Homo sapiens: one gene and its partners. The protein of the gene in region 3 interacts with the protein of the main gene of each other region in a biochemical or structural test. Each region holds a gene or a part of one and is shown on either strand. Other genes may lie near its edges.

Evidence for each region.
Region 1: the proteins of IFT81 (region 3) and UBXN10 form a complex in vitro, tested with the Homo sapiens proteins (one study listed by BioGRID).
Region 2: the proteins of IFT81 (region 3) and POLI form a complex in vitro, tested with the Homo sapiens proteins (one large-scale study listed by BioGRID).

Annotation. Positions count from the first base shown.
Region 1 is NC_000001.11:20,184,909-20,188,895, reverse strand, and holds the start of UBXN10 (UBX domain-containing protein 10), read right to left. Parts: upstream 2,801-3,987; 5' UTR 2,743-2,800; exon of another isoform or gene 276-2,742; intron 1-275. UniProt on the Homo sapiens protein: VCP/p97-binding protein required for ciliogenesis. Acts as a tethering factor that facilitates recruitment of VCP/p97 to the intraflagellar transport complex B (IFT-B) in cilia.
Region 2 is NC_000018.10:54,289,909-54,293,636, forward strand, and holds part of POLI (DNA polymerase iota isoform a (long)), read left to right. Parts: intron 1-1,924; coding exon 1,925-2,130; intron 2,131-3,728. UniProt on the Homo sapiens protein: Error-prone DNA polymerase specifically involved in DNA repair. Plays an important role in translesion synthesis, where the normal high-fidelity DNA polymerases cannot proceed and DNA synthesis stalls. Favors Hoogsteen base-pairing in the active site.
Region 3 is NC_000012.12:110,144,641-110,148,368, reverse strand, and holds part of IFT81 (intraflagellar transport protein 81 homolog), read right to left. Parts: intron 1,417-3,728; coding exon 1,321-1,416; intron 1-1,320. UniProt on the Homo sapiens protein: Component of the intraflagellar transport (IFT) complex B: together with IFT74, forms a tubulin-binding module that specifically mediates transport of tubulin within the cilium. Binds tubulin via its CH (calponin-homology)-like region.

The DNA of each region.
Region 1 (3,987 bases), on a different chromosome or scaffold from region 3:
CGTTGTTTGCTTCGGGTTGTCTGTTTAGTGCTTCCTATGTGCTAAGTTCAAAAGCCTTCCTTGTTTTGCTCTAGAACTTTTCCCCGTGTGTCCTCGGTGATTCTACTCCTGGTTAACCAGCTGGGTGAGTCCTGAAACTCATGCCTGCCCTGTCCACTGCACAGAAATGCAGGGAGGTGGACTGCAATGAGCTACCACCTACGCAGTTGCCTCAAAACATGTGAAAATAAAATCCCGAGTTGATCACTTCTCTTCTAATTCCACATTTTACTTACCTCAGATTCACTTCCTGCAGAATGATTTGCACTTCCTGCAAATTCACTCCTTTCATCACAAAATCTTGAACAATGTAATCTGAGCCTCTCAGGGTTTGTATTCTAACCTCACCATTCTGCACATGTAACCACTGCTGCCTAATTTTAAGGAGTATCTGCTTCCTCTCCACTCAGACCAGGACCAAACGCAACACATTATCCCTATATCTTCCTGATGTCCTGCTCAATTCAAAATCTTGGACAAAGCTACCCTCTTTTAAAGGCCTCTATGTCTGCTGCATTCCACTCACAGCCTGAGTCTCTCTCCACTCCCATTTTCCACTTCTCCCTCGTCTTTCACACCCAGTCTGGCTGCTAGTAGCTCAGGAGCCTTCTCCTTAGCAAACTTTTGGCATCAAAAAAGACTGCCCATCTCCTTGTTAATTTCATCTATTTTCTGATCAACTGTGAAGAATGTGTTTTTCCCCCTTTAGTCTCCTTCTCAAGTCTTTCTCTGGCAATTAGCAGCTCTGCACTTTCACTCAGGATGGCAGGAGAAGGTCATAACTGTCCAACTGTTCTGCCAAAGATAAGCTCCACAGGCAAACCCACGCCCCTCTCGGCCCACCCTCCCCACTTGTGGAATGGCTATTAATTTGCCACAGCTTCTACAGAATTATCACAGGCTTGGCTTCCAACACCCACACATGCCTCAGGAAGGTTTAACTGTCAGTGAGTTTGGTAACTTAGAAACCTCTTCCTTAACAACTTTGATGAGGAGAGTCATGTGTTCTCACAGGCTCTCTGTGGGATTATTTTTAACAGTAAAACTTGAGTATGTGCATGCACTTTCTATACCTTTTGGTTCCATATAATTATCCATGTTCAGGGGGTGTCATATTCAAGACACCCTGGTCATAAGATAACATGACTGTGAGCTATCTCAGAGAAAAACCTCAATTATGACTAATTCCTAGGAGCCCACTCATGGTTATTTAGAGACTAACACCTCCTTCAGGTAAAACCATTATATCCAACCTGCTTTCATAACCCACTGCCTCCTCCCGAGCACAGGGACCATCTGTTACACGGAGGGAACACCAGCTCTCCCCAGCACCCATCACACAGGGATGGGCGGTGGGGGAAACAGGTGTTTGGGGATCTGGGCCAACTGTGCCTTTATATTCACACCTCAGGTCCTGAACTCTGCCCACCACCCTCAGTCCAGGATTGAGGCAGCAGCCATGATTCTCCCTGCTCAGTTCACTTCACCACCTCTAGGCCTGGCAGCCACTCAACCACAAACCGATTTGACAAGATCTAGGCGTAGGCATCTATCAAGCTGCCAAGCTGAATAGGCGAGTGGCCTGTTTACTTAAACACAATAGCTGCACCCCAGCGGCCTGCTAGGAGTCAGGAAGCAAACACTGCCAACTGTTTCCAAGAAGTTGCCAGAAGGGCAGGTGCCCATTCCTTAAGATTCACCACCAAATCAACTGGAAAGAAGGAAATGTGGATAGGAGAAGCTAAAGCAGGGCTCCTGCTTTCTAAGGGTGCCCACCACCCACCACAGGGTCAGACCACCCTATTTCACTCACAACCCAAATCTAAGCCTACAGTATATGCAGTAAAATATAACCACCTACATACCATCTGCTGGTATATACCAAGATACATACATTTGAATTGGTCTTTTAAAACTGTATCAGTTAATCCTATCCGTTGCCATCCCGCCCCCCCCAACCCACACCCCCACCAGGCTTTCAGGATAAAAATGCTCTGAAGAACCAACAGGAGATGGTGGTTGGCCTGAGAATGAAAAAACTCTGGTACCATTCCCAGTTCTACCCCAAACTAGGGATTAGAATACACTGTCCTATGCAGAGTGCCACACTGAACCACAAGCCACCAAGTGATCAAATGTTTGGATAGAGAACTGGGGATGATTCCAGCGTCAGAAGGGCAGGGAGGTGGTGGGGATAACTCAATTAAGTCCAAGTTCCAGCGCCCTAGAAGGCAACAGGCTTAAGAGGCAGAGGAGGGATCTGGGGGAGGGGCGAGAAAGAGCGTTTAGAAAGCGAGAATTGACTTCAGAGAAAGAGCACAGGACTGGGGGAGGGGCCCTCTGGTTCTCGTCTCTGCCCTGCCGGAGACTGGGACATCCTTTTCTCTCCCTGGGTCTGTGTCCCCGTCGCTACATCCCAGCCTGGAGGGCATGGCCCAGCGGTTGCATAGGTCCCTCGGTTTCTGCAGAGCCCGGGAGTCACCCTATTTTGGTAAAGGTGAGCTCTGGCCAGGCTTGCTTTGCCTCGGGAGCAGACTTTTCTCCAGGCTCCTCGCCTGTCTCCCGGGGTTTGCGTCCCCCGGGCTGGGTCTGGGGAGGCCCTCCCGGGTGATGTGCTGGGGTCTCGGGGACTGGCCTCCCCCGGCCCCTTCCAGGCCTGGCGGAGGCCAAGGGCAGGCCGCGGGATCGGGCAGCCGCTCTCACCTAGCCGTTCCGCTCCATCCGCCGCCTGCGCCCGGGCTCTGTCCTGCTGGTAAACAACCCTGGTCTCCCGGGCAACGCCGCAGGGTGGGGGGCCACGTGCTTCCGGCGTGACCGGAACCGGCCTGGGTCGGGTGGGGTCGGGTGGGGTCGGGTGGGGGCCGCTGGGCCAGGAGGGCGGAGGCCGTGAACTCCAGGTCGGTGGATTGCGAGCCTGGAGTGGATTGCCTGGCCTGGAGGCGACAGGGACCCGCGGCCTCCTTCTCTCCTCCTCTTCCTAGCGTCACCGCCTCTGTTTCTCTCTGGGGGAGAGTGTCTGGGAGAGGGAGAGCCCTGGCCGGGGCATGGAGGAGCGGGGAGCAGCACCACTAGTCTCAAAATCCGTTTCTCACCTTGGGTCAGGCCCTGACCCTCTCAGTGTCCCTGGTTTTAAAATGAGGCTGTGGGACTGATGGATTCTCGGAACCCTAAACTCTGAGTGGATGCTTCTAGGGTATCTGAGTTGCGGGGAGCAGGGCCCCCATCCTCAGTACAGCCCTTTCAGCGCCAGTTCCCTGACCTCTTTTCACATCAGCCTCCCACTCCGGGGCCACACTGGGAACCTTATCAACAGCATCTGCACCTCCTTTGATGTCCCCAGCCACAATCTCTTCCACTTCCAGCCACTTGAGTCACTTCCGCTGTATCTGTTTTTCACCATCTTTGGGTTTCCTGTCCATTGCTGTCTCCGCTTTCCCCCTCGATATCAATCTGCTTCTTCCCTATCCTGGCCCATTACCTCGGCATTCTCAAAAGGATCCTCCCTGCCCGAGTCCTACTCTCCTTCCATCTGATGAAACCTGAAGCCAAACCAGTCCACCTACACACGGGTATTGAAGAAGTCTTGGCCAGCCACACACCTTGGTGTAACAGAAACACGAGGTCTCTAACCTCAGTTAGACTCTCAGCCCTGCACTTCCATCCCCAACCGACCACTGGGTTCTCTCTCCCTCCTTTCTTCTTTTTCTTCCTTTTTTAAGGGGAGACAGGGTCTCGCCCCTTCACCCAGGCTGGAGTGCAGTGGTGCAATCACAGCTCACTGCAGCCTGGACCTCCCCAGCTCAGCCTCCCTTGTAGCTGGGACTACAGGCGTGCACCACCATGCTTGGCTAATTTTTATTATTTTTTGTAGAATGGGGTTCTGCCATGTTGCTGAGGGTGGTCTTGAAGTCTTGGGCTCAAGTGATCCTCCCGCCTCAGCCTCCCAAA
Region 2 (3,728 bases), on a different chromosome or scaffold from region 3:
TAAGCATGGGCAAAGACCTCATGACTAAAACACCAAAAGCAATGGCAACAAAAGCCAAAATTGACAGATGGGACCTAATTAAACTAAAGAGCTTCTGCACAGCAAAAGAAACTATCAGCAGAGTGAACAGGCAACCTACAGAATGGGAGAAAATTTTTGCAATCTACCCATCTGACAAAGGGCTAATATCCAGAATCTACAAAGAAGTTAAACAAATTTACAAGAAAAAAGCAAACAACCCCATCAAAAAGTGGGCAAAGGATATGAACAGACACTTTTCAAAAGAAGACATTTATGCTGCCAACAGACATATGAAAAAATGCTCATCATTGCTGGTCATTAGAGAAATACAAATCAAAACCACAATGAGATACCAGCTCATGCCAGTTAGAATGGCGATCATTAAAAAGTCAGGAAACAACAGATGCTGGAGAGGATGTGGAGAAATAGGAACACTTTTACACTGTTGGTGGGAGTGTAAATTAGTTCAACCATTGTGGATGACAGTGTGGTGATTCCTCAAGGATCTAGAACTAGAAATACCATTTGACCCAGTGATCCCATTACTGGGTATATACCCAAAAGATTATAAATCATGCTACTATAAAGACACATGCACGCGTATGTTTATTGTGGCACTATTCACAATAGCAAAGACTTGGAACCAACCCAAATGTCCATCAGTAATAGACTGGATAAAGAAAACGTGTCACATATACATCATGGAATACTATGCAGCCATAAAAAAGGATGAGTTCATGTCCTTTGCAAGGACATGGATGAAGCTGGAAACCATCATTCTCAGCAAACTATCACCAGGATAGAAAACCACACACCACATGTTCTCACTCATAAGTGGGAGTTGAACAACGAGGACACATGGACACAGGGAGGAGAACATCACACACCGGGGCCTATCTGGATGGAGGGCTGAGGGAGGGATAGCATTAGGAGAAATACCTAATGTAAATGAAGAGTTGATAGGTGTAGCAAACTAACACGGTACATGTATACCTATGTAACAAATCTGCACATTGTGCACATGAACCCCAGAACTTAAAGTATAAAAGAAAAAAAATTAGGCCATTTTCAAGTTTTTCTTGAATTTTAATTTCTGCTAGGCCCTCTTTATCTCCCCATGATGTGCATGTAGCCCTTTCAGTAAGGAGTGTATGGGGAGCTTGGGCCCTCTGTGGCCTTCCATTTATTTGCATGTAGCCTCCTAGTCAACTAGGGTTGTACGGGGAGCCTATGTAGTCCCTCTTTGGTTCTCTCATTTCCAAATCTCCTGGTGACATATCTGGCTGGTCCACTGATCTGTCCTTCACCCGAACCACGACTGAAGCTTCAGACTAGCAGAGCTGTGGGATCTTCCCATTCGTTTCCTATCAAATTTGCTCATTTTACTGGCAACACTGCTGAGTGTGGGCTTTTGCCCACTGCCTCAAATCAGGTCTGTCCCCTCTGGAAGTGAAACTGCTGGCTTTTGCAGCCTTCACCCTGTACCAACTGAGCTATGTAAAGGGACATTCGAACAGTCCCAGACAGTGAAGCTGCTATCTCCTACTTTCTTAGCTAACATATAGCAGCTGTTCATAGATCAGTACTTCTCACTTTGTTTGCCTTTGGTTCATTTCCAGATTTCCACCAAAATGATTGTTTTTGACAATGTTGTTCAGTTTTATAGTAGCTTTTTGAGAGAGGATTTTCTGACCATATCAGTGTAGTATAACCAGAAATCCCATATTTCAAATCTTTTGAAAATTTTTAACCATTTAGTATTAATATTGAAATGTCTTAATTTGGTATATAATGTCAAGATGCCCAGTGATATTTAGGATTTTAATTTCTTAATCTCAGCAATATAAAATATATTATGCTCTTAATATTAATTATAATGTTTATTCTTAAACATTTTATTTAGGAAATTATGATGTGATGACCCCAATGGTTGATATACTTATGAAACTTTTTCGAAATATGGTGAATGTGAAGATGCCATTTCACCTTACCCTTCTAAGTGTGTGCTTCTGCAACCTTAAAGCACTAAATACTGCTAAGAAAGGGCTTATTGATTATTATTTAATGCCATCATTATCAACTACTTCACGCTCTGGCAAGCACAGTTTTGTAAGTACACTCTTTTTTGTTCAGTTTTCTAAGTATACTCTTATGGGATTTGTGTGGTTACATTACAAATCTAAGTGCTTGTCTTTTTGATATAGTTTAGAGATTCTTTTGGGTGATATTGTTTAGGTGATTAACTTGTTTATAATACCTATCTTATGGTTTCTGGCCTTAAATATGCTGTGATCTAAGAAGAAAACATAAGCATCACTGGATAAAAGAGAGAACCATTATGGAGGTTCTCTATTTTGGAATTGTTAACACATTTTATAGTATATAAAAATATGATGGATTAGCTCATAAGTATTAAAATATTTGCAGATATTAGAAATCACATCTTTTTGTCTTTTAGCTGACACATGAGCTACTAGTACCTTTCCCATGATTCTTTTGTTAAAGTATTTACATTTTCTTCATTTTGAAATAGTATTGAATTTTGATAGCAATATTGATAGATTTGACTACTGATTTCATAGTTGTAAAGTTAACAGTGTGGCAATAGAAAGGCAGAGGCCAGTCACATTTTCAGACGACTAAAACAAAACCCTTTTATTAATAGACAAACCACTATTTAGTAAATGTGGGTTGCCTTAAAAACAATTATTTTTTACTAAATTGTTCATGCCTATAATTAACTCAATTTAAAATACTTTTGTGTTTGTTTAGTCAGTATAATTTTAGTAACCTTTTCATTTTCATTTAAGTTTAAAGTGAGAACAGGATAGTGTATGGAAATAGTGAATTAATGCTCTCTTCAAATTACTTTTTTCTGTGACCCTTCTTATTCCATTTATTAAATTTAAAAAAGTGTTTTCTTTTTACATTTTAATTAATCTGTGAAATTGGAATTAAAAGTGCTCATTTATAGTGGCATTAGAAAAGTAAATATAAGTGAAAGTACCTTGTATGTATTTGTCACACAGTAGGTAGTCAATAAATATAAGGGCCTGAATCTTTTCTACTACTTTTACTTTTTTGGAGTTCATATTGTGTTGATGTTTACGGAGTTATATTTGACTATGTTTATATTTTTATGGTGCTTGAAACTAAAGGATTTAAATGAAAAACTGTATAGAAAAATTATGCAAGTTAGAGTTGAAAGTGTCTTTAAATTTTTATTTTATATAAATATAAACTAGTACTATATCTTGATGATGTTGGGTTTTGTTATAGGCTTTTTTTTTCTTTTTGTTAAAAGTTACCCTTTAGAATAGTAATTTTTGGAAAACTAGCCCTTGATGCTATATGTGTATGTTTTTTTGAAAAATACCCTTAGGTGAACTTGCTTTTCTAGGCCGCCATTCTTTTATTTATAGAATTGAAAGTTTGGTTGCATGATTGTTACAATCTTCCCAGGTCTCCAAATGCATATTTACCTCTGTCTCAGTGCTATCTAGGAAGGAAACCTCTTCCTGGAATAGTGGGTAGAGATTCACAAAATAGTGTGAATAATTGTGGTAGTAGATCTCTAGTTGTTTGGAACTGGCCACAAAGAGTTGTATTTGTTGAGTAGGTTAGAAACATGTCAGATAATAGCTACAGGCACACAGCAGCAGCAGCGATATTTAAAAGATATCAGATATGTAAATTAGTCTGTTATT
Region 3 (3,728 bases):
GAGCATTATCACTTCCAAATAAAAGTATGTAATACCACCTAGAAAGTTTTCTTGCCAAAAAAAAATCAAACCAGATCTGTTCAAGCTCCTAGTTCTAATTTATAGGAAATACGGGAAACAAATGAACATGGTAAAACAACACCATAGGGTTGCAATCAGTAAAACACAAACTGTTAGAAATATCATGGGAAAAATGAACCAGTTTTGTCAACACATATATTGCCAAAAAGCACTAAATAGATAAATCGATGGGAAGAGAACATATGGATTAAAAGAGACAAACTTTCTGGGACAGATAGGTGACAGCAAAAAATAAATAAATAAATAAATAACTTATCAGCCAAATGCAATATATGAATCCTATATGGATCTTAATTGAAAAAAAGAGAGACAAGGGAATGTCATTGATTTCCTGGCTGACTGAATATTTTCTGATATTAAGGAATTATTAAAATTTTCAGATGTGGTATGTTGTGGTTAAGTTAAAAAGCCTTTATCTTTTAGATATATATTCTGAAACATTTATAGATGAAATGTTATGATGAAGTCTAAGATATGCTTCAAAATAATATAGTTGGGGTTGGCAGTATAGAGGAAACAAGAATGGCCATGAGCCCTGTAGCTCAGGGACACATGAGGGTTTATTGAACAATTTGCCTCTACCTTTGTAATTGATTGAAATTTTCCGTTATAAAGGTTTTAAAAAATTCTAATGTCCTTAAATAATGCTTTGTTATGTAGCTTAGTATTTTCTGAGGTTGTAGAGTGCTCTTCACACTAAAATCCTCCTGCCTTGGTTCTTTTCAGATAAGCCATGGCCTTCATTTGAATCTTTTATAGAAATATACAACAAGATAAGTACCCTCAAAAACTAAGTGACAATTTAGTTGTGGATAAAATAATAAATGCTTTAGCACTAAAATTTAATTTATTCTACACTTGCAAACTAACTTTAAACTTGAAAAAGCATACTGTTATTAACTCATTAAAAATTATAAATATTTTTATTTATACCACCTAAGGTAAGTTTTCATTTTAAAAATAAATTCCACAGTCACAGATACAAACACAAATAGCTCTATTACCACAGTTCGTACATGCTAAGGAAACTAAGCATTATTAGGGGTATCGTAATTTCAAACTTGAATAAGCATCTTTTGTGGCTTTTCCACTAATTCTTTGATATACTATGGAGATTAGCAGTGACAGAACAACATTTATTCTCTACTTCCTTCTCACTTTAAGACTATAGATAACACAGCCAGTGGTTCATGAATATGCTTACAGATCTAAATATGTGAGCCAAAAGAATGTTCTTACCTGTTGCCTATACAGTGAGAGTTTGCCTTCAATGGGCTCATTTCTCATCATTTTCTTTTCAATCAACTGGTTAATTTCTGTGTTTATTTCATTTATCTAAAATAGCATGAAAGCAAAAAAAAAAAGTTAAAACTTTCCCTATAAGTACACAAACTAAGTGACGTCTGGCCAAACCAGCTTTGAATTTATGGTTCTTTTTTTTTAAAGACAAGGTCTCAGTTTCACCTAGACTAATTTTTTTTTTAAGAGATGGGGTCTTGCTATGTTGCCCAGACTGATTTTGAATTCCTGGGCTCAAGTGATCCTCCCACCTTGGCCTCCCAAAGTGCTGGGATTACAGACGTGAGCCATGGCACCCATCTGGAATTTACAGTTCTTAACATTAAGTCTCTGATGGGCAAAACAGTTTCATTAATGTTATGGGGAGCTTGTTATGATTACCTTTAGAAACAATTTACATTTCATGACATATAATTACACAGTTTGATTACTTATATAGATTTAATCATCTATGTCTAAATTATCCTAAAGTATTTTACATGAAATATTTATACATTACCACAAAGATGCTTTCTAAAAATCTGAAGTTATCCCCTCACCTACGTTGTGACTTCAAGTCACTGAAAGTGATAAAGCAAATGTGAACAAATATGCACCAGGGATTTATTACAATGATTCATGAACCCAGCTGACAGTTGACAGGGATAACACCCTTCCTGTGCTAATAATCTGTGATTCTTCGATAACTATCATTTATCCTAATCATTAATCTAAATCTTTCCAAAATGTAATAAAACTGAATAAATCTGACAGAAGCATATAGTTCCTCAACATATCAAAACAAAAACCATGGTTTTCAGTGTATCCATCCTTTGAAAGATTAGAGTTCTCTCTAACCCTAACCCTAATTCTGTGACATTAAATTTTAGCCAGATTAGGCCGGGCACGGTGGCTCACATCTGTAATTGAAGCACTTTGGGAGGCTGAGGCGGGTGCATCATCTGAGGTCAGGAGGTCGAGACCAGCCTGGCCAACATGGTGAAACCCCGTCTCTACTAAAAATACAAAAAATTAGCTGGGCTTGGTGGCATGCACCTGTAGTCCTGGCTACTCCAGGGGCTGAGACAGGAGAATCACTTGAACCCAGGAGGTGGAGGTTGCAGTGAGCCGAGATCGCACCACTGGACTCCAGCCTGGGTGACAGAGTGAGACTCCATCTCAAAAACAAAACAAAACAAAACAAAACAAAATTTTAGCCAGATCTGACTTGGACATTTAATTTTTCTAAGTAAATTAAAAGAATAAAACAGTCAGGCCTGGGCGCGGTGGCTCACACCTGTAATCCCAGCACTTTGGGAGGCTGAGGTGGGTGGATCACAAGGTCAGGAGTTAGAGACTAGCCTGGCCAACACAGTGAAACCCCATCTCTACTAAAAATACAAAAATTAGCTGGGCATGGTGGCAGGTGCCTGTAATTCCAGCTACTGGGGAGGCTGAGGCAGAATTCACTTGAATCCAGGAGGCAGAGGTTGCAGTGAGCCGGGATCACGCCACTGTACTCCAGCCTGGGCAACAGAGCTACACTCCATCTCAAAAAAAAAAAAACAAAAAAAACCAAAACAGTCAGAATTATGTATTTAATTGTAGTGGCTATTAACCACATAGTAAGCACACTAAAGAATTAGCAAGTCAAAACATTTCAATTAGGCTGAGTGCAATGGCTCACACCTGTAATCCCTGCACTTTGGGAGACTGAGGTGGACGGAGGCAGGCAGATCTCTTGAATCTGGGAGGTCAAGACCATGCTGGGCAACATGGCCAGACCCTGTCTGTACAAAAAATTCAAAAATTGGCCAGAACTGGTGGCATGCACCTTGTAGTCCCAGCTACTTGGGAAGCTCAGGTGGAGGATCACTTGAGCCTGGGAGATGGAGGCTGCAGTGAGCTGTGATCATGTCACTGAACTCCAGCCTAGGTGACAGTGTGAGACTCCGTGTAAAAAAAAAAAAAAAAAAAAAAATTAGGCATAGTGGTGTGCGCCTGTAATCCCAGCTAGTCGAGAGGCTGAGGTAGAAGAATCGCTTGAACCCAGAAGGTGGAGGTTGCAGTGAGCTGAGATTGTGCCACTGCACTCCAGCCTGGGCAACAGAGCAAGTTCCGTCAAAAAAAAAAAAAAAAAAAAAAAGGCACTGCACCTGACCTAGCATTTTAATTCTAGGGAACAAAAATGGTATAATCAGGCCAAGCACAGTGGCTCACACCTGTAATCCCAGCACTTTGGGAGGCTGAGGCGGGCAGATCACCTGAGGTCAGGAGTTCAAGACCAGCCTGGACAAATGGCAAAACCCCGTCTCTACTAAAAATAAAAAAATTGGCCAGGCATGGTGGCACATATCTGTAGTCCCAGC